Linked DNA regions of Homo sapiens. The protein of the gene in region 2 purifies or fractionates together with the protein of the main gene of each other region. This does not show direct contact. Each region holds a gene or a part of one and is shown on either strand. Other genes may lie near its edges. The genes, in order: CAST and CAPN8.

What was found.
Region 1: the proteins of CAPN8 (region 2) and CAST purify together in Homo sapiens (affinity purification with mass spectrometry; 2 studies listed by BioGRID and IntAct, with this or other methods). This does not show direct contact.

What each region holds. Positions count from the first base shown.
Region 1 is NC_000005.10:96,653,066-96,669,332, reverse strand, and holds the start of CAST (calpastatin), read right to left. Parts: upstream 6,958-16,267; 5' UTR 6,911-6,957; coding exon 6,836-6,910; intron 6,309-6,835; exon of another isoform or gene 6,197-6,308; coding exon of another isoform or gene 6,167-6,196; intron 1-6,166.
Region 2 is NC_000001.11:223,658,989-223,674,662, reverse strand, and holds the start of CAPN8 (calpain-8), read left to right. Parts: upstream 1-8,961; 5' UTR 8,962-9,016; coding exon 9,017-9,253; intron 9,254-15,674. UniProt on the Homo sapiens protein: Calcium-regulated non-lysosomal thiol-protease. Involved in membrane trafficking in the gastric surface mucus cells (pit cells) and may involve the membrane trafficking of mucus cells via interactions with coat protein.

The DNA.
Region 1 (16,267 bases), on a different chromosome or scaffold from region 2:
GCTTGAAAAATTAAGAGACAATGTGCAAATTGGTATTTCCCACAAAAATGCCTTAAAATATATTTGTATATGTATTCTACTTGCTAAAGCAAAATTATTCAGCAAACAAGCAGATGGACCAAAGCTTCTGTAAAGCTGGTTTTGCTTCAGAACAGTCTCCCTGGGTGCAGATCCTAGAACTGTCTGCCTTCAGGTGGATTCCTTGTTCCACTTCTGCTGTGTTCAAATTGTAGTGGAACTTTGCTGGCTGCAATTCTCTTGATGGATGGCCTCAAGTTGGGTTTAGCCAACAGCAGGCGCTGCCAGGAGACTAGAGGTGGTGGGTGGGTGGTATTCCCTTTGCCCCACCCCCTCCTCCAGTAGCACCTCCTGCAGGATGGGTTGGCTGTGGTTCCAGCTTCTGCAAGGTGACCCTTGTCCTCCCTGTGTCCCTCTAGACTAGGGATGGTAGCAGCTTCCTGCAATTTCTAATCTCTGGGTTGCCTCACCCTCCCCTGACGGCTTCCCAGCCTTTTTTTTTTTTACCTGGGTAACCAATTCCCTATGTTACACTCCCTTTGTTTTAAATACTCAGAGTCATTTCTGTCTGTTAGTTGACTGCAATAAACTCTGATAGGGCAGAAACAGCCTAGATTTGTAAGGCTATATGACCGTGACCTTGGGCAGATAATTTAATTTTTCAGTTTCTTTTTGTAAAATAGGGCTAATGGTATCTATCCCAGGGGCTGGCAAATTTATGAAAAGAGTTGACATTAGTGAGGCACCTGGTTCATTGCCTTGTTCATTTTAAGAACACAATTAAAATTATTTCACTCCCTTCTTTTTCCCTGGCAATCTGACTGTGGTGAATTAGAAGCCAGTGAGTTAAGGTTTGAGGGTTTCATTTTCTAAGGCTGTAAACATTAGAACAGAAGAATTTAGTATTTTACTTTCCCTAAAGTACAAAGGAACCTTATCAGGTTCATCTGATTAAGTTTTTGTTTAGTACTTTGTCTATCTCATGACTGTGTATTATATATTATTCTCACATCTTCGTATAACACTCAAGGAGATAAACTACATGGGGGTTAAAGAATTCATTTTCCCAACAAACTACAGCAATTTGGTTACAAGGATGACTTATATTTGCAATTCCCATGCTTTAAAACATGTTGAAAGGGTGTGTGTGTGTGTGTGTGTGTGCACGCGTGTCTGTGCTGGTAGCTGTGACGGTTAACAGATAAAACAAGATTAGGACAATGTTGACAATTATTGACACCAATGATTGGTATATGAAGAGGTCATTATACTTATTTATTTATTTATTCATTTATTTATTGAGACGGAGTCTTGCTCTGTCGCCCGGGCTGGAGTGCAGTGGTGCAATCTCGGCTTACTGCAAGCTCCGCCTCGCGGGTTCACGCCATTCTCCTGCCTCAGCCTCCTGAGTAGCTGGAATTACAGGCGCCTGCCACCACGCCCAGCTAATTTTTTTGTATTTTTAGTAGAGATGGGGTTTCACCATCTTGGCCAGGCTGGTCTTGAACTCCTGACCTTGTGATCCATCCGCCTCAGCCTCCCAAAGTGCTGGGATTACAGGCGTGAGCCAACCGCACCCAGCCTCATTATACTCTTCTCTTATTCTGTGTACTAATGCTTAATATATATTAAGGATTAACTGCATAGCTGTAATTCTGAAATCCCTCTGTTTTCACTGAACCCCAAGTGTTCGTTTTTTCTAACATTTTAAGATTTCAGTGGACATGACAAGATGACACTGTAAAGGTACAGGCCCTTTGTGTCCAATTTTCAGAGGTGGCATCTATTGCCTGTCATAGATTAGCTCCTGGGATTCACCTGAAGTAAGGCTGGATGAGTTTTTCTTAAGTCAAAGGGGGTATCATGAGAATTTAAATAGTTGCTTTGTTGCCACAGCAGTTGTCATGAGAATGAACTTGTAGTTTTATCTATGAGAAATGCAAGAGGAGGCCAGGCACAGACCACTGCACGATTTTTTTGTGTCCACCGCACTCTGCACAAAACTGACACACAGCAGGTGGACAATAAACAACTGTGAACATCTTTGAGCTTTACCAAATTTATTCTTATGTTCTATGAGTTTCCTACAACCAAAACAAATTTCATACATTTTTAGGAAACTATAACTTTAGACCTTTTTCTTCCTGAGTTAACTGACTTTTCCATCTGAGGAGATAACTTACATGAACAGTGTTTATTGGATGGAACTGTTCTTGCATTTTTCTTAACTGGAAGACATCTGATATACTTCCCCCTGCCCCCCGCCTTTATGGTGGCTGTAAAGCTTTCTGGGTATGTTTTCATGAAAGGAAAATGAGACAACTCAAAGAACAGAACTTTAGTATCTGTTAATATGATTTTCATCTTAAAAATACCTCAAGGGGGAAAAATGATGTACTACTTAGAGTAGTTTTGTATCTGCTGAGACAATCTAGTCAGAACTAATTACCCACCTATCCACATGGAATCTCACATGACCCCCCACTGTTCCCACCCCCAGAAGGCTATAGCATTCTTTAAAAGGCACCTGTAGAATATAATTAACCTTCTGGGAAGTGCCAAAACTGATTTAAAGAAAGATATTATCAGATGCTACTCTTGGTTTAAAAGGCTTATACACAATGGGGCGCGAACTAATTCAAAGACTGTCAGCTGAAAGAGAAAGGCTGTATTTGACCTCTATGTTTCCATTACCCTAAAGTCTATGCCCTTTTTGCAGGCCCTGTTATTTGCCTTCCTTAGTTCTAAAATTCACTGTGAGCAAGTGATCTGTCCTGCCATGGAAGGCTTGCAACATTCTTCCCAGGCTGGCAGCAATGATGGGGCCTCCCAAATGACTGGGCTCCTTGATCATGCTGTCACTAGGTCTATGGATCTAATTAGGCTAAGAAACACCTTTAATTAACATAGTCTAATAGAATCAACTGATGATTCAGGAATGTGATGACTGGTGTGGGCCAAATTAACCTTCGTTCATGCTTGATCATTACATAGCTCATAGATGTTCTTCAAATTTAGCTCTGCAGAGTTGTGTGGTGTGTGTGTGTGTGTGTGTGTTTACTACAACCACATTTTTCAGAAGATAAAGTCAATAGGATTGATGGCATTCAATGTGGAAATATACATTGCAACGTTTCACTGACTAGCTTTATAGGTGGCATGCTGTTAAACGAACACATCTGAGACATGTCTTTTAATTATTTCATTTTATTCTGCCTAAATTTTGAAAGTTAGATCATTTATAACCTTTTCAGTACTTAAAGGATTCCACAAAGATATTTTAATTATAGGATTTACCTGAAGTATTCTGAGATGTCTGTGTATATACCGATATCTGTGTTTATATCTGTAGATATATATGCATATAAATCTGTCTATATATGTATTATACATGCATGTGTACATACAGACAGACATCTGTATTTATATCTGTAGATACATACACACATAAATCTAGATGTCTACATATGTATTATACATGCATGTGTGTATTATATATAAATATGCACATATATGTATATTGGATTGTATATGTTTGTATGTGTGTATGTATATGTGTGTGTGTGTGTGTATGTGTGTGTGTGTGTGTTATAAACTGGCTCCATGGACCTTTGGGGGATTTATGGGTGGTCTTTTGGAAATCTCTGAACTCCCTGAAGCTATATTGGAAACTGCATTTTGTGTATGTTTGTATGTATTTTGTTGTGGGAAAGCAGTCCATAAATCCCATTTGATTCTCAAAATTGTCTGTGACCACCCACCTATCACCAAAGGAAAAAAAGAAAGTTTAGGAGTCCATGGTCTAGCGCTATACTGTCCATTACTATAGCCCCTAGCTGCTTGTGGCTACTGAACACTCTTGAAATGTGGCAAGTGTGAATTGAGATGTGCTGTTAATGTAAATATACATTGGATTTTGAAGAATTAGTATAAAAAAGAATGTAAAATATCTCAATGGCTTATACACTGATTACATGATGAAATAATAATATGTGGGATATAGTAGGTTAAGTAAAATATATCAATTAGCACAAATTTCACCTGCTTTTTGTTGTGATGTTGTTGTTAAAGTGGCTCCTTGGAAATCTGAAATTGCAGACGTGGCTCACATTATGTTTCTATTGAATAGCACTGGTTTGGGCAAAGCTAAAGCTTGATCACAGGCATGTAGCTGGTTCTAGGAAGTTCCTACTAGCAAAAAGTTTTCATGGTAGTACCAAAATGGGATTCTAAGAGAGGTTTTAGCAAAAACATCAGACTGTGACTAAACAAAACAGGGTTAAAAGCATAGATTCAAACTACTTTCATCCAAGTAACCCAGCAGAGTTTCCTTGAGAGAATCATGAGTCTGGAAGGAGAATTTTGATGTCAACTCTGAACTACTGCTATCCATATTTGCAGATAAGGTACATGGTACATTTTGATAAGAACCTTAGGCCAATAATGACTCAAAGCAAATTGATGTGGTTTGTTCTTACCACATCAATCAAATGCTACATGTAAAAGCCCAGGAAATGTACTGGAAAACATTCATGAAGAAGTATCTCAAGGGAAATTGGAATTCCAAATTCTTAAAAGTATATGTGTATGACATTTTGACTTTTAAATCTAATTAGTCCTCACCAATACTTATGTAGTGCATATAATTTCTATTTTACACATGTGAAAACAGGTTGAAAAGGTTGACTTATTTCCATTTGAGAAAAACTCTTTGTTCTCCACAGTGTACATGGAGGCTTTAAAAAGCACCTGTAGGCCCAGTGCAGTGGCTCATGCCTGTAATCCAACATTTTGGGAGGCTGAGGTGGGAGGATTGCTTGAGACCAGGAGTTTTAGACTAGCCTGGGCAACATAGTGAGAGAGACCCTGTACAGTATATTGTATGTGTGTGTGTGTGTGCATATATATATATATTTACACATATATATGCACACACATATATATGCACACACACATATATTTACATATATATGCACACACATATATTTACATATATGTGTAAATATATATATGCACACACACTGTAAATATACACACATACACACTATACATATATACTATTTATATAGAAACGGAGAATAAAAAATAATCTAAAAAAAAACACTACTTGTGGGATATAATTCTGCCTGGCACATAATAGATGATCAATAAATGTCCATTGTCTGATAAGTAACAGTTTCTTTCTTGATTCTTATACAGGGTAGCTAGCTCCAAAGAATGTCTGATTCCAACATCTTTGCTTTTTCCAATACCACATGCCAAGAGAGAAAAAGACATACCTAATTTTTTAATTCTCACCATAAATCAATGAGACATAAACATTTTGGCTCTCACTGTCAACAAAACTCCTGTGTGTGATTTTTTTTTTTTTTTTTGGAAAGCAATCTAATGTTAAATCATGCTTCCTGGTTCCAAAACACTAGAAGTGCCAGCTTGACTGGATATTACACCTAATTGGCAGGACAAACATTCAATGCACCAAACAAATGGAATGTTCTTGTCCCTCATCCAAAGTAATAAAGTGCAGAGAAGCTCGCTTTTGTGCGCGCTGTCTCTCTCTCCCTCCCTCTCTCACTTTCTCGCTTTCTTTCCTCCACCCCTCCACCGCTCTCTCCAAGGGTCTTGGTCTCAGATCTCAGTTGCTTCTGCCCCTTGATGTTTGGGATTTTCTCCTTGCCTCACATTGCAGCTGCCTCTCCTTTGCGTCGGCGAATGTACGTCCAACAATCGCCCTCTAAAAGTTTTGAACTTTACTTAGGGGTTAAAAAAGAACTCTAGATCAAAGCTCTTGCGAGCTGCGTCCTAGTGCATTCAGGAATCCACCTCCTAGACAGAATTCCTCCAGCAACAATTCCAGTTCCATCCCACTTGTGAGCGCCAGCAGAGCATAGTGCTTGACATCGGGGCGAGAGAGGTGCATGCGCCGCGCACGCTCGGGCGCGCTCATACATACCACAAGAGGGTGAGTCCCCTGCCTCTCCCCGAGCCTAACCTGAAGGTCTGCGAGGAGGTCGCACCCGGTCCGCACCCCTTCCCCGCCAAACCCCGGACAACGCTTCATCCGCACGCCCAGAAGGGCAAAGCAAACACACTCCCTTCCAACACACTCCCTTCCGGGTCCTGCCCAGGCACAACCGCTCCTATTTACCGTCTTGTACCACCAGCTGGCGAATGCCATGGCAACAACCGGCTGGCTCCGATCCGCACGGCGGGGGAGCCGGCGAGGGCGCGGGGTGTTGCGTTGGAGGCGCCGGGCTCACACTCCGCTTGGCCGGGACCGGGCTGGCACTGAGCTCCGCACATCCCAAGGCGGCTGCCAGGTGGGCAGAACCCTGGGGGTGGGGCCCGGCGCAGGCCCCGCCCCTCCTCGCCCGCCCAATTTGGCTCGAGGCTGGTTAGGGAAGAGGCTCTGCGTCTCCAGGCAGCCACGCCCTGCGGCCCGGCCTTAGCGCGGAAGACTACATCCCGCTGTCCAGTGAAACCACCCCACTCACTCGGGGGTCCTGAGTGAACCTCATTCCCCGTTCATCCTCATCCTCATTCACCCACGTCTTACCAGCCAACTTTTCTTGACGCGTCCCCCCCTCCACTCTACCCGGCCAACGCCACGCCCAGCGCACTGGACCCGGCCGGGGAACCGAAGCCACCTGCAGCCACCTGCCTGGCAGCGGCCAAGCCCCTAGCCCTCTCCCTGCCCCGCGGGGGCGCCGGGGACTGCAGACCCGCCAGCCTGGCAACGCCCAGGGAGGGCGGCCACAGCTCCGGGACCCGGTACCCCATCGCCCAGCCCCGCGACGCCGACAGGAGCGCCACTCACCTCATGGGTGCGGCGGGCGGCGGCTGCTCGCCGGGGCCGCGGGGAGGCGGCGGGCTTCTGGCCGGGCTGGGACATGGCGAGGCCGCTGCGGCCGCTGCCTCCCGGAATGCGCCGCGGAGAGTGGCGGGGAGGCCTGGCGGGGAGTCCTGCCAGGGAGAGAGGGAGGGAGGGAGGGAGCGGAGGGCCCGGGAGCGGGCGATGAAACAGCTTTTCCGACCCCACCCCAGGTCTGCGCCGGGGTTCCCCTAGCCCCGATGGGCCCTCCCCTTCCTGCCCGCGGAGGGACCCGGGCTCCTGCCCTGTAACTTAACACCCTCCGCCCCGGTCCTCACCCGGTGACCCGCCCCGGCCCCAGCACTGCTCTGGTCCCGGTTGGTCAGAAAGAAGGGGTTGGAGGTTGCAGCGTTCCTCCTTCGATGCCCAGATCTAGCTTGCAGTTGTGCAACGAGAGAGCGGGACCCGGGCGTGGCCAGTCTACGCTTCGACCCTCCTCCCAACAATCCGGAGAAGTAGATACTCTTTCTACATTCTGCTCCGCTTTAGCTGCGAGAGTTTACCAACTCAAATCTGGCCCAAGCCTGGACAGTCTAGATAAGGAAGCGGATCACAAAAACAAATTGGTCTGTGTGTGTGTGCGTGCGTGCACGCGCCTGTGTATGTTTTATATGATTTTACTTTGTTTTTTGGCAGTTTCGAATTTTAATAAACTTTTATGGGGAGGAGAACATAGGTTCCAATGCAAAACGGAGAACAGTCCCAAATTTAAACCCTTATAGTCTTTCTAGAGTCTGGCGAGTTTTGTTTCTGAAGCTAGATTGCTTTCTTCTTGGGCTCATCTTAAACAGCGCTTCCTGGTTTGGGGCTGGAAGTGAAATTTAACAAGCCCTACGTGCTTATGTGAGAAACTGTCAGCCTGCAGTTGCTGCTGGTTCACAATCAGGCCTGACAGAAAACCTGTTTGTTACCCTGCAGTAGCATCATCATTCTGGGACTTGGGGTCACCGCTTTCTGCAGCGTTGGGGTTTAGACAGTTGAAGAGAGAGAAGGCAGAGCCTTTTTTTTTTTTTTTTTTTTTTTTCTGGAGAGGCAGTTTCGCTCTGTCTGGAGTGCAGTGGCGCGATCTCTGCTCGCTGCAATCTCCGCCTCCCAGGTTCAAGCGATTCTCCTGCCTCAGTCTCCTAAGTACTTGGGACTACAGGCGCGTTGTCACACCCAGCTTTTTTTTTTTTTTTTTTTTTTTAATGGTAGAGACGGGGTTTCACCACGTTGGTCAGACTGGTCTCGAACAACACCTGACCTCAAGTGATCTGCCCAGTGCTGCCTCCCAAAGTGCTAGGATTACAGGCGTGAGCCACTACAGCCGGCCAGAAGGCAGATTTTAAGGAGAGATTTGTCATGCTATATGGAGCCTGGCAGAACAGAATTCTGGTTTCCTTTGTACCTCCTCATTTTAGGAATTCTGACTTCTTCTTCAAAGGATAGGCTAGCAGCATTCTTAATTTTGAGGGAGGGGATGCGGGGAGAAGAGGATTTAAATGCATTTCCTCTTAAAGTGTCGTACTTACTGTCTGTGTATCTAGTATTTCAACAAACAGGTAGCACTGCAGGAATTTATACATAAAAATGAAACAACTTAGATATTGGGACTATGTCCACTCAGGAAAAACAAATGATTGTTGGCATCGGTTACATTCAGAAAGGAGGGAAACTATGCCATAAGTCTGAAAACAAGATCTTCTTATGATTGTGACCACACCACTACAGTAATTTAAACAAACACAAAAGCTGTAGGGGTGAGGTGACAGGCAGCTCCTCCTTCCTGGCCTCCACCCCAGGAACTAGAATGATTTTCTTACTGGGGAGCCTACATATCCCAGAATCAAGGTTTTAGATCCCTGGAGTACTTTATTCAAACTCTGGAATGGTTTCCAGTGACTTGGTGGCATTAGAGTTTGAGGTTATTTTCCAACAGAGTATTTAAAAATTGAGTTTAAACCAGTTATATATTTCTTGAGAGTATTCTATGTAAAACATTGTGAAAGGACTAGTAGAAGGAGAGATATAGAGATTAAAAAGATACATTGCCTGTCCTCCAGGGACTGACAGTTTAGCTGAAGTTATATGGCATTTGTAACACATGATGGTGTAGGGATATTGAAAGACCTAACAGTGTGTGAGTAAGTACAAAGGTGTTTTGGGAGTTTGGGGTTCCACAGGGGTTGTATCAACAATAGGAGGGAAAGGAGGAAGGAGACATGAGCAGGCTGGCTAGCTGGTGAGGTGTGAACAGAAGGAGAAGGGGTGGGGGCACCTGACGAGATAAAGAGGAACCCACTCACCTGGCTGGAGCGGAGGGTCTATGTAATGGAGTAAGTAATCAATCTATTCACCAGCTCATTGTTTGTGGAGCAGCTACACTAATACATGATATATTAGGTATCAAAATCTATAAGAGGTAATAACCCTAACCTTCAGGCTTAGCTTAAAAGTCAGAACTCACATAAGCAGAACAATTGCTAAACAATGCATTAATGACTATGAGTACAGAAGAATTTCAAAGAAGCTGAAGACCCTGATGTTTTGCTTTTCCTTGTAGCCAGTGAAGAATTATTGGAACTTTGATATCATGGACCAGCATTTACTAATTTGGGGAAGCTCCTTTTAAATATAGATGGTGCGGTGGCTCATGCCTGTAATCCTAGCACTTTGGGAGACTGAGGTGGGCAGAGTGCCTGAGCTCAGGAGTTCGAGACCAGCCTGGGCAACACGACGAAACCCCGTCTCTACTAAAAATACAAAAAACTAGCTGGGCATGGTGGCGCGCACCTGTAATCCCAGCTACTCAGGAGGCCGAGGCACAAGAATCGCCTGAACAAGGGAGGCAGAGGTTGCAGTGAGCCAAGATTGTCCCATTGCACTCCAGCCTGGGCGACAGAGTGAGACTCTGTCTCAAGAAAAACAAAAACTAAATATAAATAAATAAATGGCTTTTGCCACATTACTGTCTGCACATAGGTAATCATTTATTCCTTTATTTACTCAGTAACAGATGCCTGCTATGGGGAGGTACTGTAGACCTCTTACACTAAAGGACTTTACAATTAGAAGAGACAGACAAGTAAATACAGGCATACCTCATTTTATTGCTCTTTGCTTTATTGCATTTCACAGATACTGTGTTTTTTACAAAATGAAGGCTTGTGGCAACCGTGCCTCGAGCATGTCTGTCAGCACCATTTTTCCAACAGCATGTGTGTTCACCTCATGTCTACCCACATTTTGGTAATTCTTGCAACACCTCAACCTTTTTCATTATATCTGTTACGTGATATGTGATCAGAGATCTTTGATGTTGCTATTGTAATTATTTTGGGGCACCACATAGTGCACCCATAGAAGACAGAGAATTTAATTGATAAATGTTGTGTGTGTTTTGACTGCTCCACCAACTGGCTGTTCTACCTAGGAATCGATTTGCATATAAATATATACTTGAAAGAGAATCCTATAAAGAAATAAAAAACAGAGCCAAAGAAACATCCAGGTAGATACCACATCGCATTTGCTGGAGATTGCCATATTTTGGCAATACATCATAGTGGGTAAAGCATAAGAGTTTTAGATCCACACAACTATGTTTAAATCCCAGCTCTGCCACTTATGGACTGCATACCTCAAGCAAATTACTTAATCACTTTGAATATCAGTTCCCTAACCTGTTACCTGTGGATGATAAAGCTGAGTACCTACATCCTAGGGTTATTCTGATGATGGAATAAGGCAGTGTATTAAAGCATTTGGCACAGTGCCTCATGTATGATAATTGTGCAAATAAATGCTGGTTGCAATTATTAAATTGCATTTATTATTAATAGTTAAAAATTTCAAAACCCCTGAATGTTCTTTGGACAGGGGCAAAGCAGTTTTTGTTGGATCCCCAGTAAGAAGCAACCTCCTGTCCAATCAATGAATGTTATAGATCTGTTTCCATTCAACCAGCATTCCAGACATTCTGTAGACCATAAAATGAGCCACAGCTGAGCAGTACCCTAGGAAAGCTCTAATCCAGACCCACATACCTGAGCTGGCAGCCAGAATTCACGCTGATGTACTCATTCCCAATAATGGGTGCTTTTTCCATTTTTCCATTTCCTTTTTTTTTTCTTTTTGGTTTGCTTCTTTTGTGTATGTGCTGATAGAGTGGCTGGTTATTTGAAATAACTTTAACATTTGTTAGGCAACAAGAAACCAAATTTGGGATGATGTGTGCATGGTAATGAACTTACTAAACCCAAAGTACTCCCGTGTTCCTGTCCTGGGATAGGTGCAAGTTCGTCATGGCCCCTCAGATCTGGAGGCAACACAGAAAACTGAGTCACAAAATTACATTTTTTTTTTTCAGATGGACTCTCGCTCTGTTGTCCAGGCTGGAGTGCAGTGGCATGATCTCGGCTCACCGCAACCTCCACCTCCTGGGTTCAAGTGATTCTCCTGCCTCTCAGCCTCCTGAGTAGCTGGGATTACAGGTGCCCACCACCACGGTCATCTAATTTTTGTATTTTTAGTAGAGATGAGGTTTTGCCATGTTGGCCAGGCTGGTCTCGAACTCCTGACCTCATGTGATCCACTCGCCTCGGCCTCCCAAAGTGCTAGGATTACAGGTGTGAGCCACCGTGCCTGGCCTACAAAATTACATTTTCAGACTAGCAAGTGTATCTCTGGAAATCAAGTTATATTTTTGAAATCTTGCCACTTTCCACTAACTTTCATTTTTCTCCCACTCACAAACACCATCTTATGGAATTAATTTTCTATATAGAAATTTTTGCAGCCCAAATATCTGTACAGCCAACTGCTTGCTTCAAATATTTACCAAAGCTAGATTAATTTTTTAATGTGCTATTTCTGTCTGGAATATATCTAGACCAAGTCATTCATAGGAATCAATTTTTATTATAAGAATTATCATATTCTTGTCATATTGAAGATTTTGAATCAATTATCTTTTCCTTTCTATATATCCTAACCTACTCCCTCCCACTCAAAAAATTGTCATCTAAATTTTCCCAGGCCTAGACTTCATTTCCTCCCTCAGCCTGTCTTTTGTCCATTAATAGGTATTTCTTGTAGCCTATCCAGAAGGCATGTAGATTGGGACGATACACTGAGCAAACCACATTTCTTCACTATAGCAAAAAAGAAACCACAGTTGGTCATCATGGTGACTCACCCCAGGCTTCTACCGCCACACCCAAACCACACAATACTGCAAACTCTTTGGTTAGATTTAAGGCAGAAAATAAAGCCATCCTGCAAAGCAAGATTTTTATGTTCCAAGGTACGCCTAAGGTCACCTCTCTTTGGTGTTTGATTATAAAATAGTCTTGATCCTTCTTGTTGCAGATCACTTCACATTACATATTTATTGGTGTCAGGTTTGTTTTCATTTTTGTTTCTTTCCCTGCATTTGTTTCCAGCTCAGATTATTGTATAAAGAAATGTGCCATTTCTAAGAGGTTCTTCAATTGCCTGCAAGCCACAGTGTTTTTTTTTAATTAAGAAAAAGTGTCTCTTTGGATTTAATACTCAAAGTCATTTGGGGCACATGCAGAATCTTGATTCCTTTGAATCAATATATAAGAATTCACTAGTTTCTAGAAAGAAGAGTTAAGAGCATGCACCAGGGGCCATTTGGAATATCTGCCCGGCTCACCCCTGTTCCTCCTTTGGAGTAGAATTCCAGATCCCATCATGGCTCCCCATTGCTCTATCCCTCTTCTCCACAGCCCACAGTTGACTGGACCAATGGTAGACCTGACTTGAACTGACCCAAACGGGCAGGTTTTCTTTCCTCATTGGGAGGTGGGGACTGAGTAATGAAATTAAGATGAAGATAGAGGAAAAAACTTTCTGGGTGCTAAAAACCGTAACGTGAAGCATGTAGACCTGGGCTTCACTGTGGAAACTGAGGACCCGGAAAGTCAGCCCGCACAGGAAGAAAGAACAGGCCTGCCAGGGAAGCAGAGATAGGAGGAGACAGAAGAGGGCTGAGCTTCCTTACGACCTTCCACTTAATGAGCTGCACTCTCTAGTGAGGCCCAGTTGCACTCAAAAGGCTTTGGTTCTGGGACGTACGCTATAGCCTTCAAAATAATCTCCCCTCATTTTTGTTTTAACAGTACAAGTTGCTTTTTCTGTTATTTGTTAACCAAGAGTCTCAACCAATTCAGAAACTAAGCAGAATATGCATAGAGTATACAAATTGTTCTTAAGTAAAGTTCTCAGTAATTTTTCCAAACTTTTTTTCCCCGTGGTCCTCAGTAAGAAATACATTTTACATTGCAACTAGTACATATAAATGCACATGATTTGAACATGAAGTTTCATGGAACAATTCTTCATTATCTATGATCAGGTAAAAACAATGAATAATGTGAACTATGTTTTATTCATCTGTAAACACAAAGTGGAAACAAATCCAAAACAAACAATAAAAACTAAAAATTAGGAAATATTTTACTTAATGCTCCAGCTATCTTTGCCTGTTCATGTTTATTACAGTCTGAGACACATGAAGATAATGCTACCTGCATTTCTGGTGCACTGTTCAGCCAGATTTTTTTTGTTGTTTTAATTGGCTGAAGATTGAAAATCCCGATTTACACAAATAGGCTCTTGAGAATGTTAACAGTGGCAGCATATTCTGATATTCAACTTCTGTTCTACTTTATTCAAATTTCTTTTTTAAACTGTTGATGATGACTCACTAAATGTCATAACCAACTATTGTGCCCACAGTTTGAAAAACAGTAAGCCAGAATATATTGTTAAATTGCCTACTACTAAGATGAGCTAAGATAAGGCAAATGCATTGCAAGTATCTGCAGTAGATCCTTATTTGAGCTCAGACATCTGTCCTTTTTTAAAGCTCTCTAGAGGGGAATCCCAGTTTTTCATTCACTACTGCAGATCATTTGTAACAATTCTCTTTATGTGGAGAGCCATCTGCATTTGACTGCGGACTGCCATTCAAATCCATTTCTTCTTGTCCAGTTTTCAGAGAAGATAAAGAATAGGTACTCTAAAGCTTCTCTTTGCCTGGGTCTATCCTTCTCCCTGCCTTTTCCCTCTTATCCACAGAAAGCCAGCTTCCCAGCCACACTGGTCTCCCTACTGGACCATGCATGACCCGTGCATGCACTTTCCCTTTCCTGCATTTTTCCATGTTGCTGTTCTTCCGAGAGACATCTCCCATCTGGTTATCTAAATCCTGCACATTCTTCAAGTAGCAGGACATGTTTACCCACCATCAGGTCTTGCTCATCACTCTGCCCCACATCTTTTTTGTCCTTTTCTGATCACCTATAGGTCTTGAAAGGTTTCTATTCCATATTTATTGACACAGAAAAATATTCAGTATCCTCTTAGAAGGACAATGTATTTATAAAATAGCATGTACATTGTAGAGCTAAAGATAGAGCTATACATCAAGAAATTAACTAGATGTGAGCATTTGGGTAATTCTATTTTGGTTTTATTTTCCCAGTTTATGTTTTCTTAATGTTTCTTATATTTCTTAATGGTTCTTGCAATAAACACATAGTATACAATAAAAATAATAAAAGGAAAGTCTTAACTTTTGAGCTAGCTATGAAGGTCTTTTATCATGTGAGCCCTCCCCAAATTTAACACAAATATACATGGTCTTTATTTGTTCTCTTCTTGTGTGCTCAGCTTCCACTTCCAAATGTATTGCAATATTCTTGAAAATCCAGATGCCCCTTTTTTGTTTTTTCTTACTTTTCATTTTCCAATTTTGATATAACAGCAAGTTATTAATGAACTTACTCTTGATAACATCTGAGTGTAGTCAAGTAAAAGCTTATGCTGTGTATGTCTAGAAGATATTTGTGTTATATTTTACTTCCTTCAAACCACTGAAAACTCTGCAAATATTACTTCTCAGATTAAAATATAACATCGGAGAAAAAGAGAGTGCTTTGTTTTTGAAACTGGTAATATACAGTAGCTATGCACACTACACGTGAGGTTTTTTTGCTTTCATTATGTACTCCACAGTTTGGTTTTCTTAAGAAAAAGATATAGGAAGCATAAATGAGGAAAGTAGTGAAAGTGAAAGAAAGGTAAGAAAAAGAATTGAAAAAAGAAAATGGGCCGGGTGCGGTGGCTCACATCTGTAATCCCAGCACTTTGGGAGGCTGAGGCAGACAAATCAAAAGGTCAGGAGTTTGAGACCAGCTTGGCCAATATGGTGAAATCCTGTCTCTACTAAAAATACAAAAAAATTTAGCCAGGCATGGTGGTGCACACCTGTAATCCCAGCTACTTGGGAGGCTGAGGCAGGATAATTCCTTGAATCCGGGAGGCGCAGGTTGCAGTGAGCTGAGATCGCACCACTGCACTCCAGCTGGGCAACAGAGTGAGACTCCGTCTCAAAAAAAAAAAAAAAGAAAAGAAAAGAAAACGATAAGGAGAAAGGAGAGATACAAGGGAAGAGAAAAGAGAGAGGGGAAGAAGAAGAAAAAGGAAAAAAGGATAGTTAAGCAACAAGAATGAAAAAGGGGAAATTAAGTAGTATTTTTAAGGGGAAACAACAAATATTAGACTAAAACTACCACTAGAAAAATACAGAATAAGACTCATAGTTATTTATTTATTTATTTTGCTTTTCAGTCTTTCAAATACTTAAAGATAATTATTTTGGCCCCCAAATTCTTTTTTCTTTTCTTTCTAAAGAAGCCAAAATGAAATATTCCTTCGTCTTCTAAATATTGGGTTAAGATACAAGATAAAGATCTGAGAGAAAAGAAGAAAAAGAAAAGAGCTTTTAAATAATTTTTATTTCATCTATGATTTACCTTTTGCTTACTCTAATCTAGGACTTTATATGCATTTTATAAACCTTCACAGCAATGTTACGAGGTTTTATTTGTACCCTTATTTTACAGAGAAGGAGATGGGTGTTTTAAGAAGGTAAGACTTCATCCACAGCTGGGAGGTGGCAGAGCCAGATTCCAAAGCCAGGTCTACTAACTACACTTCCTCTCCAAATTGTTGCCCTTTCTGGAGCAACAACTCAATTGTTCTCTTTTAATCATCTGTTTTTCTAGGTCTCCCAGAACTCTCTAGATGAGACAGCATTTATTTATTATGAATTTATTATGCAGTTGACTTTGAGGAAAAAAATGTGATTAAAAACACATGTCTGGCATAACTTCAATACCAGGTGGGGTCTAGCCCTGCCCCAAGGCAATGAATCTGGACTGGTTTGCCTACTCAGACACAGAGACTCCCTGTGAGGTCTGATCCCACCCTGAGGATATAGGATAACTGTGGCACAGAGTAGATGTGTCCCTGGAGCCTGTGAGAAAATATGAAGGCAATCACTAAACTATGGAATAACTGCCATTA
Region 2 (15,674 bases):
GAAGGCATTTCAGCAAACTTCATGGCAGCCTCTCCCTTCACAGGCCCAGAGGCCTAGGATAGAAGAATGGTTTTGTGGTCTGGACCCAGAGCCCCACTGCCCTGCACAACCTCGGGACAGTGCTCCCTGTGTCCTGGCGGCTCAAGCTCCAGATATGCCTCAGGCAGCTGCTCCAGAGGGTGCAAGCTGCAAGTATTGGTGGCCTCCACATGGCATTAAGCCTGTGGGTGTGCAGAGGACAAGAGTTAAGGCTTGGGAGTCTCTGCCTAGATTTCAGAAGATGTATGGAAATGGCCGAATGTCTAGGCAGAAGTCTGCTGCAGGAGTGGAGCCCTCATGGAGAACCTCTACTAGGGTAGTGCAGAAGGGAAATGTGGGGTTGAAACCCCCATGCAGAGTTTCCAGTGGGGCACTGCCTAGTGGGGCTGTGAGACGAAGACCACCATCCTCCAGACCCCAGAATGGTAGATCCACCAACAGCTTGCACTGTGCACCTGGAAAAGCCACAGGCACTCAACACCCTTGAGAACAGCCATGGGAGCTGAGCCCTGCAGAGCCACAGGGACAGAACTGCCCAAGGCCTTGGGAGCCCAGCCCTTTCACCAGTGTGGTCTGGATGTGAGACACAGAGTCAAAGGAGATTATTTCAGAGCTTTAAGATTTAATGACTGCCCTGCTGGGTTTTGGACCTGCATAGGGCCTATAGCTCCTTTGCTTTGGCCAATTTTTCCCTTCTGGAAAGGGAGTAATTATCCAATGCCTATACCCCTATTGTATTTTGGAAGTAACTAACTTGTTTTTGATTTTACAGGCTCATGGGTGGAAGGGACTTGTCTTGTCTCAGATGAGACTTTGGACTGGACTTTCGAGTTAATGCTGAAATGAGTTAAAACTTGGGGGACTGTTGAGATGGGATAATTGTATTTTGCAATGTGAGAAGGACACAAAGTTTGGGATAGGCCAGGGACAGAATATGGTTTGGATTTGTGTCTTCGTCCAAATCTCATGTCAATTTGTAATCCCCAGTGTTGGAGAAGGGGCCTGGTGGGAGGTGATCAGATCATGGGGGTGGTTTAATGGTTTAGCACCATCCCCCTAGTGCTATCTTAAAAGTGTGTAGCACCTCCCCTACACTTCCTCCTGCTCCCACCATGTAAGATGTGCTTGCTTCACCTTTGTCTTCCACCACGACTGTAAGTTTTCTGAGGCCTCCTCAGAAGCAGAAGCCTGTATAGCCTGCAGAACCATAAGCCAATTAAACAACTTTTCTTTATAAATTACTCAGTTTTAGGTATTTCTTTATAGCAGTGTGAGAATGGACTAATACAGCAAGTTTGTTATATAGCTAAGCTCCTGTCATAGGGATTTGTTGTACAGATTATTTCATCACCCAAGTACTAAGCCTAGTACCAAATAGTTATTCTTTTTTTGTTCCTCTCCCTCCTCCCACCCTCTACCTGCAAGTAGGCTCCAGTGTCTGTTGTTCCCTTCTTTGTGTTCATGAGTTCTCATCACTTAGCTCCCACTTACAAGTGAGAACATGTGGTATTTGGTATTCTTGCATTAGTTTGCTAAGGACAATAGCCTCTAGCTCCATCCACATTTCAGTAAAAGACATAGTCTTGTTCTTTTTTTGACTGCATAGTATTTCAGGGTGTATATGCACCACGTTTTCTTTATCCAATTTGTAATTGATGGGCATTTTGATTGATTCCATGTCTTTGCTATTGTGAATAGTGCTGCAAGAAACATTTGCTTGCATGTATCTTTATGGCAGAATGATTTATATTCCTTTGGGTATATACCCAGTAATGGGATTGCCAGATATAATGATAGCTCTGTTGTTAGGTCTTTGTAGCTCAGGAATTTTTATGGAGGCTTTATCTCATAGGCATGATGGATTATCAACCTAGTCACCAGCTCCTCTCCCCTGCCTGGAAGATGGGGAGTGGGGCTGAAAGTTCCAAGCCCTCCCTTCCTCCCTCCCTCCCTCCCTCCCTCCCTCCCTCCCTCCCTCCCTCCTTTCTTTCTTTCTTTCTTTCTTTCTTTCTTTCTTTCTTTCTTTCTTTCTTTCTTTCTTTCTTTCTTTCTTGTTTCTGAGACAGGGTCTCTCTCTGTTGCCTAGGCTGGAGTACAGTGGCATGAACATGGCCCGCTACAGCCTCAATCTCCTGGGCCCAAGCAATCCTCTTGCCTTGGTTTCCTGAGTAGCTGGGACTACAGGTGTGTACCACTATGTCCAGCTAGTTTATTATTTTTTATTTTTAGTACAGATATCATCTCACTGTGTTGTCCAGGCTGGCGCTGAACTCCTGGGCTGAAACGATCCTTTTACGTTGGCCTCTCAAAGTTCTGGGATTACAGTTGTGAAGCAACTTGCCTGGCTTTTTCCAAGCTTCTAATCATGGCTTGGTCTTTCTTGTGACTAGCCCCCATTCAGGAGCCCACAAGAGTCACCTTATTAGAACAAAAGACTCTTCTATTCCCAGGAAATTCCAGGGATTTAGGAGCTCTGTCAGGAACTAGAGTCAAAGACCAAATATTACAACAAAAGATGCTCCTAGCACATTTATCACCCAGGAAATTACAAAGATTTTAGAAGCTTTGTGCCAGGAACTGAGGACAAAGACCAAAATACTTATTTCTTATTAAATCACAAGATCACAAGAGGTATCCTGGCTGTGTCTTCCCTTCCTCCACACTCATCCCCAGCCTCTGGGACTCACAGAGGAGGTAAACTTGGGAACTCCTCTCCCTACCTGCCCAGCCCCAGTGCCACTACCTGAATTAAGCCATCATCGATTCTTGCTTGTTTCAGAGCAACTGCACCCTAACTATAGAGAAGAAGTCCACATCCATTTAGGATGGCATTCAAGGCCCCCAGTGTCTTTTCCTCTTGTTGTTTGCCTCCTGCCTCACTCCAGGAGTGAGTGATCTAGAATGATCTCATTCTAGATAATTAATATTCTGTTGGCACTGTGTGCAGAGCTGTTCCTTCTTGCCATTTTCTTGCTGTTCCCCTTGACTCCAATGCCCTTTTTACACTGCCTTCTTTCAAAATCATCATCCTTCAAGCACCTTATCCTACAGATCTAACTGGAAGGCCACCTCTTCCATGAAGCCCTCCTTATCACTCATCATCCTCAGAATCAACCACTCTTTCTTTGAGCATTGCCTGGTCTTTCCACTGCATGGAAGTTCTTTGTGGGCAGGCATGGTGTCTATTTGTCTTTCGATTTTTTCTTTTCTTTTCTTTTTTCTTTTTCTTGAGACAAGGTCTTGCTCTGTCACCTAGGCCAGAGTGCAGTGGCGCGATCTCAGCTCTCTGAAACCTCCACCTCCTGGGTTCAAGCAATTCTTCTGCCTCAGTCTCTTGAGTAGCTGGTATTACAGGTGCCTGCCACCATGCCTGGCTAATTTTTTGAAATTTTTATAGAGATGGGGTTTCACCACGTTGCTCAGGCTGGTCTGGAACTGCTGGGCTCAAGTCATCTGCCTGCCTTGTCCTCCCAAAGTGCTGGGATTGCAGGCCTGAACAAATGCGTCTGGCCTCTATTTGTCCTTTTATCCTCCTACGAGCATTGACCCCTGCCCAGTGGAGTGTTGGCACAGAGACGGCTTGCAGATCTGAGTGAGGCTTGCAGATCTGAGTGAGGCACAGAGATGGCTTGCAGATTGGAGGGCTGAGTGAGTCATTGGATTTCTTCCTTTTAGGCATCACATCTCACAGCCTACTGCCCAGGTCGCATCTCCCTGTTGGTATGTGTGGGTAGCGTGCCTTAAAAAGAGCATGGGAATTAAAATCAGAAGACTTGGGCTCAAGTTTGCTACTTGAGTGACCTTGGGGTAGCCTGACAATATGATCTTTCTTACAGACTTGTCGTGAATCTCTAAGCAGCCATGGCAGGAAAGTGCTATGTAGACCTTGCATTCTATTCAAATGTGAGTTTTTGCCACATTACTTAGTCATACCAGGTCAACAGGATCTGTAGGCCTCTAGGGGGCAGTCTCAGCTGGCCTCCCAACTGGCCTTGACTGAGCCCTTTCCTGCCAGGATGAAGGCCTGAGCTGTGACCCCTAAGATGCCATGAGCGATCCTGCAGACCTGGAGAGAGAATGAGCCCACACATCTCAACTCATCCAGGCTTCTGGTTAGGTAGGGTTTGCTCTTACAGCTCTAGAACTGTTTGCATGTGCTGGGCACTTGATATCCTGGGCAGATGGGAAGCCAATCTCTTCCTTAGAGGCCACCTACCAATGCTTGTATCATAGCCAGCCTTCCCCTCTGTAATGCCTTTTTTTCTCCTTTTCAATTTTAAAATTGAGATATAACTCACATAACATAAACATCGCCAAAGTGTACATTTAAAGTGTGATATTTATTTATTTATTTGAGACAGGTCTCGCTTGCTCATCCAGATGAGAGTACAGTGGTGCAACCATAGCCCACGGCAGCCTCAACCTCCTGGGCTCAAGCGATGCTCCCAGCTCAGCTTGACAAAGTGCTGGGATTGCAGGTGTAAGCCACTGTGCCTGGCCTAAAATGTGACTTTTGGTTGTGCAACTATCACCACCATCTCATTCCATAATAATTTCATCACCCCAAAAAAGAAACCTTGTAACTATTAGAGTCAGCCCCACTTCCCAATCCTTGGCAACCACGACTCTGCTTTCTTTCCCTATGGCTTTGCAATTCTAGGCATTTCATAAAACTGGAATTATACAATGTATGGCCTTTTGTCATTCGCTTCTTTTACTTTGCATGTCTTTAAGATCCGTCTATGTTGTAGCATGTAACAGTATCTCGCTCCTTTTATGGACTCCTTTTATGGCTGAATAATATTCCATCATATGCATATACCACATTTTGTTTATCCATTTGTCCATCGATGGGCATTTAGGTTGTTTCCACTTTTTGGCTATTATGAATAATGCTCCTATGGGCATTTATGTACACGTTTTTGTGTAGACATATGCTTTCAATTCTCTTTCAATCCTTGAAGTGGGATGTTACTCAGAGTTACTGTGTAATTCTATGTTTAGCATTTTGAGAAACTGCTGGACTGCTTTCCAAAACAGCGGCACCATTTTACATTCCCACCAGCAATGTATGAGAACTCTGTAATCCTCTTGACACTGGATTCAACCCCTGCTTGCCTTAGCATTCTGAAACTGTCAGGCCCAGGAGAGAGAATTCTGCAGTTAGCTTGCACCCATCTTTTCCCTGAAGTTATAGTTATGCAAGACAACAAGCTTTGCAAACTTTAATCATCTGAAAAGAACACTTGGACCGCTGGGTGCAACCAGAGTGATTTATCTTCCTTTCTAAGGGGATAATACAGCCTTGATCCTTTTGACTGAGAGGAGCCATGTATAGATACAGCTCAGCATCCCCACTTGGCTGGTGTGCACAGAGAAGAGGCAGCATTCACCTGGGCTCTTTGCCGAGAAGTGTTCTTATTAAGGAGGTGCTGCCAGGCGTGTGTCAGTTGTGTCTGCACACCCTCATCAACCTCTTAGTGGATCCTCAGGCTGCCTGGCAAGGAGCTGGCACTGGTTCCTGTGGTGCCTGGGGTGTGAGGCTGGAGAGACATCTGTCCAGGTGGACAGAGACAGTGGATGCAGGCTGCTTCCTCCTGGGTACCTGGCTGGAGAACACATAGATGTTTGCTGTCTGCTCATGAGGCGCTGGGGAGCAGAGACTTCTCAACTCCACTTGTTCTTTTTGTGCCTGGATACAAGGAAGGCTCTATTTTCAGTGGCTCAGACCTGCCAGCCTCGATGAGGAAGGGTTTGTTTGCACAGCATCTGGATGTGGGAGCGAGGTAATTCAGGCAGGTGGGGTAGGAAGGAGATTGCTAACCTCGAAGGAGTTCCCTTGTGCAGAAGGAAAATTACCAGCTGTGCTTATTCTGTGATTGGATGGAGGAAGGGCTTGTTCATTTTAGTCAGTCTAAGGGGAATGTTTCTGGGAGGTGTAGGGGAGAAAGAGGCAAGAAAAACAATCCCATAGGATCCTTGCTAATGAACTAATGACCCTGCCGGAAGGTGTCAGGTCCATTATACCTGGTGCACGTTTATCCACAGCACATCTCATACCTGTAGGTGTATATTCATGCAACAAATATTTATTGAGTCCCTACTATGTTCCAGGAGCTTTCTAGGGTTCAGGAATACAACAATGAGTAAAACAAACAGGGGTAATTGTCCTCGTGGAGATCAGAGCCTTATGGGGTGGAGAGGCATTAATTAAATGATTACAGGAATCGGTGCGGGACAGGGTCTTGCAGGTTGCTATGAGAGCGTATAAGAGGGGAAAATGGCTTAGTATGAGGTGTGGAGTTGTCCAGAAAACCTTTTCTGGGGCACCCAGGTCTACTGGATGAACAGGGCTGGGGTGGGGAGAAGAACATTTCAGGTGGAGGGCACAGAAGGTGTCAAGCCCTGAAGCAGGACAGAACACAACATTCCAGGAATGGAAAGAAAGCCAGGAGGGGAGAATGGAGCAGGAGGAAAGGTAGGCAGGGCCAGCTGCTCAAGGTCTAATGGGCTGTGCAAAATCCCCCTTACTCTTCTCCCAGGAACAGTGGGCAGCCATTGGAGGTTTTAAGCTTGGCAGTGACACAGCCAAGATTTGCAATGACCATTCTGTTTTGACTGAATGGAGTTGTGGTTCTGGTTTTAGGGGTGGTTGGGGCCACCCAAGTGAGACCGTGTCAACTGTGTGGGCCGGTGAAAATGTAACTGTGAACACTAGATGAGCTTAATAGTGGGCAGATGTGGAATCAAAGGGAAAGTGATGTTGAGGGAAGGAAGACGGGGTCCCCAAGGGGGCATGGACCATAGTCTTTCTGAGGCTAGCTTTAGCCTCTGAAGGCCATTTTGGCCTTGAATTTCTTTTTCTTTCTTTCTTTCTTTTTTTTTTTTTCAGGCAGGGTTTCATCACTCTGTCACCCAGGCTGGAGTGGGTGACTCACTGCAGCCTTGACCTGACCTCCTGGGCTCAAGTGATCCTCCTACCTCAGCCTCTTGAGTAGCTGGGACTACAGGCATGCACCACCATGCCCAGCTAATTTTTCTTTTTTTTTTTTTAGAGACTGGGTCTTGTTATGTTGCCCAGGCTGGTCTTGAACTCCTGGGCTCATGCAATCCTCCTGCCTCAGCCTCCCAAAGTGCTGAGATTACAGATCTGAGCCACCATGCCTGGCCTGGCCTTGAGTTTCTGATGAAACCTGGGAAACCACATGTTTTTCTGAACACCTGGGAGCAACCCTTCTTTCTACTTGCTCAGACCTACCCACCTAGCTAAGTGCTTAACACGTGGACTGTCATTGGCTTAGAAGGTCAGAGTTGGAGGCCTCAGAGGTCGGCTGGTCCAGAGCTTCTCAGAGGGCATCCCTGGATCCTTGTATTAGCATCATCTCTGTGGTACTGGTTTAAAAACTGCAGATTCCTGGGTCTTACTTCAGACCTCCTGAATTAGAACTCTTTTTTGGGAGGGATGGGGGTGGAGGATTTGTGGTAGCACCTATTAGGGAATCAGCATTTTGAGCGAGTGCTCCAGGGGATTCTTCTGCACACTATATTTGTTTCCTGCGTCTTCTGTAACAAATGACCACAAATATGGTGGCTTAGAACAACATACATGTATTCTGTCACCGTTCTGGAGGCCAGAAGTCCCAAGGCTGTGAAATCGAGGTGTTGGAAGGCCCACATCCCTCCAGCGGCTCTAGGGGAGAATCCATTCTTGCCCCTTCCAGCTCCTGTGGCTGCTGGTGTTCCCTGGAGTGGGGCAGGATCTCGCTAACCTCTGCCTGCCTCATTTCATCACCTCTCCTTTTTGTCTATTGTCAAATCTTCTTCTGCCTTCCTCTTAGGACACTTGTGTATTTAGGGTCAGGATAATCTTCCCATCTCGAGATCCTTAACTTAGTCATAGCAGCAAAAACCCTTTTCCCAGATAAGGGACTATTTACAGGTTCTCAAGATGAGGACCTGGTATCCTTGGGGGACCATTTTCTAGTGTGCCACAAACACTGAAGTTCAAAAAGCATTGGTGTGGTTGACATCCTTCGGGTAGACCAGATGTAGGAAACTGGAGCCCAGAGAGAAGTGACTAATCCAAGGTCATACAGCTTGTAACTCACTTCTGAGATTGGAATCAAGGCTCCTGATTCCAAGGCCTTTCTGGGAATCCTGGCTTCAAGGAATAGTGATACCTGACATTCACTGAATGTTACTTCATACTGTTCTAAGCAGATGACATGTACTATCTCATCACTCTTCCGAACAACCCTTTGTGGTAGGCTCTCCTATGCTCTTCCAGTTTATAGATAAAAAAACTTAGGAGAAAAGAGGTTAAACAACTTGCCCAACATGACAGAGCAAATTACCGGGGGAGCTGGGATAGAAACCGAGGCAGTCAGAGGCCAAAGCGTTCACTCACAGGTGGAACCTCCTCCAGTCAGGCTTATTCCAAATCTGGCCTGTGAATCACTACTCTCTGGTATTTTTTGCCTTCCTAGGAAATATGCACCAAAACATTTCTGGCAGGAAAGGAGGCCCCTGTAACTACTTGCCTTCTTCCTGCTCAGAGCCATGCCTCCAATTCCTTGATGAATATTTGCTTCAAGCTGCTCAATAAGCCTTCTCATCTCAGTCAATGGGCTTGAAGCAAGGTAAGCAGGTCTTGCAAAGAGGTGTGTGGAGGGAATGCCGGGGTGGGGTCAAGATCCTAATGGATTTCTTAGGCTAATGGCCTGGGATGGGCCCTGGAAAGTTCCCAGACCCCAAATTATTTGCAAAAGGCAGAAGAAGAAGGTGGGGCAGATTGGCCTGGACCTTGGGTACATATTTGTCCCTGGCCATGACTCACTTCCTTCTGGAACAGGGCCTCAGGTGAAATGTTTGTCTGCTCCACCTCCTTTAGTGCCTTATAGCTCCCCTCCCAGTGGAGCAGGTGTCTGAGAGTACAGTGCAGCCCTGCCCTTCTGTCCACCCTACAGAGCCCACGGCCATGGCAGCCCAGGCAGCTGGTGTATCTAGGCAGCGGGCAGCCACTCAAGGTCTTGGCTCCAACCAAAACGCTTTGAAGTACTTGGGCCAGGATTTCAAGACCCTGAGGCAACAGTGCTTGGACTCAGGGGTCCTATTTAAGGACCCTGAGTTCCCAGCATGTCCATCAGCTTTGGGCTACAAGGATCTTGGACCAGGCTCTCCGCAAACTCAAGGCATCATCTGGAAGCGGCCCACGGTAAGGAAGCGGGCTTGCTGTTGAGTGACATACAAGGTGGAGGGGCCTTACATCTGATCAGGAGGAACTGAGGGAGAAGTTGAGGCTGTGGACCCTAAGTGTCTGGATCTCATATTTCAGATCCCTCCACCACCACCTTTTTTAATTTTATTTTTTTGAGATGGAGTCTTGCTCTGTCACCCAGGCTGGAGTGCAATGGCATGATCTCAGCTCACTGCAACCTCTACCTCCTGGGTTTGAGTGATTCTCCTGCCTCAGCCTCCCGAGTAGCTGGGATTACAGGCATGTGCCACCATGTCTGGCTAATTTTGTATTTTTAGTAGAGATGGGGTTTCTCCATGTTGGTCAGGCTGGTCTCAAACTCCCAACCTCAGGTGATCCATCTGCCTCAGCCTTCCAAAGTGCTGGGATAGCAGGCATGAGCCACTGCATCTGGCCCCCCCATCACCTTTTGAACTCTTATTTTTTTTGAGGCAGAGTCTCACTCTGTCACCCAGACTGGAGTGCAGTGGTGCGATCACAGTGCACTGCAACCTCAACCTTCCTGGGCTCAGGTGATTTTCCTACCTTAACCTCCCAAGTAGCTGGGATTATAGGCACGTGCCACCACACCCAGCTAATGTTTACATATTTTTGTAGAGACAGGGTTGTGCTGTGTTGCCCAGGGTGGTCTTGGACTCCTGGGCTTAAGCCATCTGCCCACCTCAGCCTCCCAAAGTGTTAGGATTACAGATGTGAGCCACTACACCCAGCCTGAACTCTTGTTCAGAGATGGTGAGGTATAGAGAGAAGAGCATGGATGAGCTTTGGAACTAGGTAAGATAGATTTGAATCCTAGCTCTGCCTGTGTTGTTTTGGGCCGGTAAACTCTGTGAACCTTAGTTTTCTCATCTGTAAAATGGCATTTACTGGCACCTTATTTTTCAGGGTTGGTATGAGAATTAGAGATAAATCTCAGAGCATAGTGCCCAGAACATAATAGATGCAGAATACGTAGTTGTTATTACTGCATATGGTCCCTGGGCCAGTGCACAATGGAACAACTCAGTGCTGGATGCAATCAGCTGGCAGGTAAATTGTGACAACATCATTGCTGAAAGGTGCACGGTTGCGCAAGGTCATGAATTGACATTATTCCATCAGGGCTGGTGAGTGGAGAGGTGGGAGCTGGGGCTCTGTGGATGCAGACGGAAGGCAGAGGCTCCTGGATGCGGTTACTGATACTACCCAAAGCTCAAGGGCAAGGGATGGAGAACAGTCCTCCCAAAACCTAGACCCATGACCTATCACTATGTGACCCTTGTCAAGTGATTCCTCAGGGATGAGAACCTCTCCCATACAGAGTGGTTGTGAGAATTGAGCTCATCCATACAAAGTGCTCTGTTCAACAGAGCTCATAACAACGTCTCAGGAGAGGGGCTATGAAATGACCTGGGCACCTTTTGTCTTCTAAACCATGATAGGGAAATTAAGTCAGGGTTCCTATTTTCTTGGCAGTGGTTGAAACAGGAAGACAAAGGGAGAGTACTTCTTCTAAAATGGTCAAAATCACTATTTAACTCCAGCTAGCTACCTCTACCCTTTTTACTTTGATCCTGCTGATTTTGCCTAACAGTTTTCATCTCTGAGAATAACTCCTTGGCCATGCTGCCCTCCCGCCCACCGTGGTTCATCTTCCCATTCCCCTCTGAAACCTATAGGGTTACCCTGGTATGTTGATAAAATCCAGATTGGGAGTAATGGTTTTTATTCTAATTTCAAGACAGCCACATTTCATTTCAACAGACAGTTTTTTTGAGCTTCCATTTTGTGCCAGGCATGGGCTCTGCACTGATTGGAAAGGTGGTCAGGGAGAAGCTGAGGAAGGAGCTGTGGTCTCAGCTCTGATGGAAAGTGTGGGGAGACACAGGTGTGAATAAAGGACAGATGCCCAAGGCAGAATGAAGTAAGAACTCTACAGAGGCATAAATGATGGGCCATGGGAACCTGGGTTGTCACAACTGGGTGGTGAAAAGCCTTAGGGAGGGGTACCATTGCAGATCCCAAGGGTCTTGGGGGAGAGGAAGGAGGGGGAGAAAATTTTCCTTTAGAGACCAAAGTCAGGTATCAGTTAACCTTTGCTTAGTTTTTCTCCTTTCTTTGAAATCCTTAGAGACTTTACCTCCTTAACCACATAGCCTGTTCTTCCCCAAACTATGTCTTCACCTGTCCTCGTGGTCTGTGGAAATGCGGTAATTGTAGACTGGATGTGCTGATTTGTGGCTGTCAAAGGAGGAAGTAAAATTCAGAGCATGAGGCAGTAGAACCTGAGTAATGCGGAAGGTGCAATTGAAGGACTCCTATTTGGAGTTTTCAAGTGCGTGTTGAGTAAATAAATGCGTGTCAAAATTTAACCTCTCCTTCCCTAATCATCAGTGAAAAATTATCACACAGCTGCTTTTGGGCAGGCTCATGCTCACATACCACAAGGGTACATTAGAGAAGGCAGACTTATCCTCTAAGATCTTACAGTTATTGAATAGACTCCTGAATCAGTAAAGATTCTGATCCTATCTCTATGAGGAACATGCATTGAATGCTGAGAAAATTAGCCTGATCCTAAATGCTTCATTATTATTTTTTCCTCCCAAGAGGCCTTTCAAGGGTTTGCAAAGAGATCAGGGTATCCAGAAATGTGGTGCATTGTAAGTTCATTTGTTGCATTTACTCATTTATTTTTAAATTGTGGTATGATACACATAACATAAAATTTGCCATCTTAACCCCTTCTAAATGCACAGTTCAGTGGCATTAAGTACATTCCCATTGCTATGCAACCATCACCACCCTCCATCACCAGAATTGTTTTTATCTTGCAAAACAGAAACTAAATACACATTTAAAAACTCCCCATTCATTCTTCCCCGAATTTCGTTTCCTTTCTTTTCTTTTTTCTTTTTCTTTCTTTCTTTTTTTTTGTTTGAGATAGAGTCTTTCTCTGTTGCCCAGGCTGGAGTGCAGTGGCGCGATCTTGGCTCCCTGCAACCTCTGCCTCCCCAGTTCAAGCGATTCTCCTGCCTCAGCCTCCTGAGTAGCTGGGATTACAGGCACCTGCCACCAAGCCTGGCTAATTTTTTGTACTTTTAGTAGAGATCGGGTGTTGCCATGTTGGCCAGGATGGTCTGGAACTCCTGACCTCAAGTGATTCAATCACCTCGGCCTCCCAAAGTGCTGGGATTACAGGTGTGAGCCACTGCGCCTGGCCCTTCTCCCCAGTTTCTGACAACTGTTCTCCTTTCTGTCTCTTTGAATTTGATTATGTTGGGTACCTCATATAAGTGGAATTATACAGTATTTGTCCTTTTGTGACTGGCATAACTCACTTAGCATAATATCCTCAAGATTCATCCATGTTGTGGCATATGTCAAAATTTCCTTCCTTTCAAAGGTTGAATAGTATTCTGTGGTGTCTATAGACCACATTTTGTTTATTCATTTGTCCATTGTTGGTCTTGGGTTGCTTCCACTTTTGGTTATTGTGAATCATGCTGCTACAAACATGGGCATACAAACTTCTCTTTGAGACCCTGCTTCCAGTTCTTTTTGTTATATACCCAAAAGATATGACCCATGGCTGGATCATATGGCAGTTCTACGTTCAAGTTTTTGAGGAACCACAGTGCTGTTTTATATAGTGGTTGCACCATTTTGCATTCCCACCAGCAGTGCACAGGGTTCCTATTTCTCCACATCCTTGCCAATGTTTGTTATTTTCTTTCATTTTTTTTCTTTTTTGAGATGGAGTTTCACTCTTGTCTTGTCACCCAGGCCGGAGTACAATGGTGCGAATTCGGCTCACTGTAACCTCTGCCCCTCGGGTTCAAGTGATTCTCCTGCTTCAGACTCCCGAGTAGCTGGGATTACAGGCACTCGTAACAATGCCCAACAAATTTTTATATTTTTAGTAGAGACAGGGTTTTGCCATGTTGGCCAGGCTGGTCTTGAACTCCTGACCTCAGTTGATCTGCCCACCTTGGCCTCCCAAAGTGCTAGGATTACAGGTGTGAGCCACTGCACTCAGCCATTTTCTGTTTTTTGATAGTAGCCATTCTAATGGGTGTGAGGTGACATTTCATTGTGGTTTTGATTTGCATTTCCCCAAAGATCAGTGATGGTGAGCATCTTTTCATGTGCTTATTGACCATTTGTAGATCATCTTTGGAGAAACATATATCCAAGTTCTTTGCCTTTTTTTTTTTTTTTTTAAGACAGGGTCTCACTCTGTTGCCTAGGCTGGACTGCAGTGGTTCAATCTTGGCTCACTGCAACCTCTGCCTCCTAGAATCAAGTGATTCTCGTGTCCCAGCCTCCCAAGTAACTGTGACCACAGGCTCCTGCCACCAATTGGCTAATTTTTTGTGTTTTTAGTACAGATTGGGTTTTGCCATGTTGGCGAGGCTGGTCTCAAACTCCTGGTCTCAAGTGACCCACCTGCCTCGGCCTCCCAAAATGTTGGGATTACAGGTGTGAGCTATTGTGCCCAGCCCCTTTGCCCATTTTTAATTGTGTCGTTTGCTTTTTTATTTCACTGCTGCTTTTGAGGGTGATTTTGTACTTCTTCAGTGTTGGGGGCTTTAAGTCCACTGCCTAAATGTGACTCATATGATCCTGGTTCCCACACAGACGTTAATTTCTACCGCCCTTTGGGGGAAAGCAGATGAGATGGGTTGAACATGTATGTACACATGTTTTTGTCCTCTCAATAATAAAATAAAGATTGATACTTAGATATTTTCTGAAATCACATCATTTGACATCCTGCCCCTGCTGGGCGTTTCTGCCTATTCATAAGCAATTGAGCAAAGATTTGCTTGAGCTCTTGTCCCAAGGGTTTCAGGACAAGTTTGCCCAGAGGAAGGGCTCAAGGTCAAGCATAGGTTCTCAGGATGAACTTTTGGTTATTCACAATCCTGAGACAATTTAGGGTTGGGCAAGAACAATCCTACCACAAACAGCATGGTTGGCTATGTGAGATCGGGGGTGTTCTTAGCAGGTAGATTTTTGCCTCCTTATTTTCTGGCTTCCCCTCTGTGCTTGGTTAATGCCCAGCCCAGGTCCTGTGGTTTGAGGAATGCCCAGCATGAGCAGGCCCTGGTGCAGTGCAGTCAATGATATTCTTCCCTGAAGTGTCCACTTTTTGGCAATTAAGTGGTTTATTGATCTTAAGGAGAAATACAGCAAGACAGCAATGAAGTGATGTCAGCTGCATAATAAGGACCTAGTTTAAGAGAAATGTCAAGGGGATGAATTGTTGGGAGGTTAGGATAAGGATGAGGGTGACAGGCCTCAGCTTGGAGCTTCCACTCTTTCTTCAGCTGCTACATCTGGAGTGAATCTGGAGTTTTCAGTTTAGCCATGATTTATTGCGTGCTGGTTGTGTTCAGGTGCTGGAGAGGAGTCTTTGTGGAGCTTTGGCTCATCAGGGAGAGACATACGGACAAGTGGACAGCTGGCAGGCCACAGAGTGGTTAAGAGCATGAGCTCGTGCGTCAGGTAGATCAGGTTTCTGGTCCCCTCTGGCCATTTGCTAGCTGAGGAACCATGACTAATGACCCCAAGACTCAGTTTCCTCTTCCATAAAATGGAGATAACAATATTACCCACTTCACTGTTTTTTGGAGGCTTTGGTTATTGGGATGCTTGAATAAGGAAATCTAGCTGTTATTACAAGACAGAATATCCAGAGAGTGAAATAAATAGAAATATGAACACAATGTATGGGAGTTCAGGGGAAGAAGCAGTTAAATTTGACAGTGACATTGGGGCAGGTTAATTACCGGAGACGTTTGAGTTGGGATTGTTGGTGGAAGAGAATCGGGATAGAGACTGAAGAGAAGGCGCAGGTGTGGGCAGAGGTACTGGGTTGTGGCAGTGCATCGGGAGCAAGTGTATTCAGAGGAAGGTGGGAGTCCACTGTGATGGGAAGAGAGTGATAATCACTCACTGTGGGAAACTGACAGACAAAGCTGGAAACATCCAGTGGGGCCAGATCACAGAGGGATGGAGGTGCTGGGTCAAGCAATGTGGCTATACTTGAAGATGATGATGGTGAAGATGGCAGCATCTCTGGGGGTTCTAAAAACCAGAGCTCCTAAAGTGCAAACCAAAGCTATCAGACATGGTTAACGCTCTAGGAGAGCAGTGTGGCCAAACAGCCATCATCACTGAGACAGTGTGGGTTTCAGTCACTTTCTGCCTTGGATTCTTGACTGATACCTGTATTTCCTTAGGCCTGGTCATCAGAGGCTGATCCTAGGTTAGAGTAATTTGTATTTATGGAGTGTTTTGAGATCCTCGCTTGAGTAATAGAAAACAGTGTTACTAAAAAGACATGATTGTTATTAGGAAAGATAAAAAAGGGTTCTAAGTGTGGGTAGGTGGC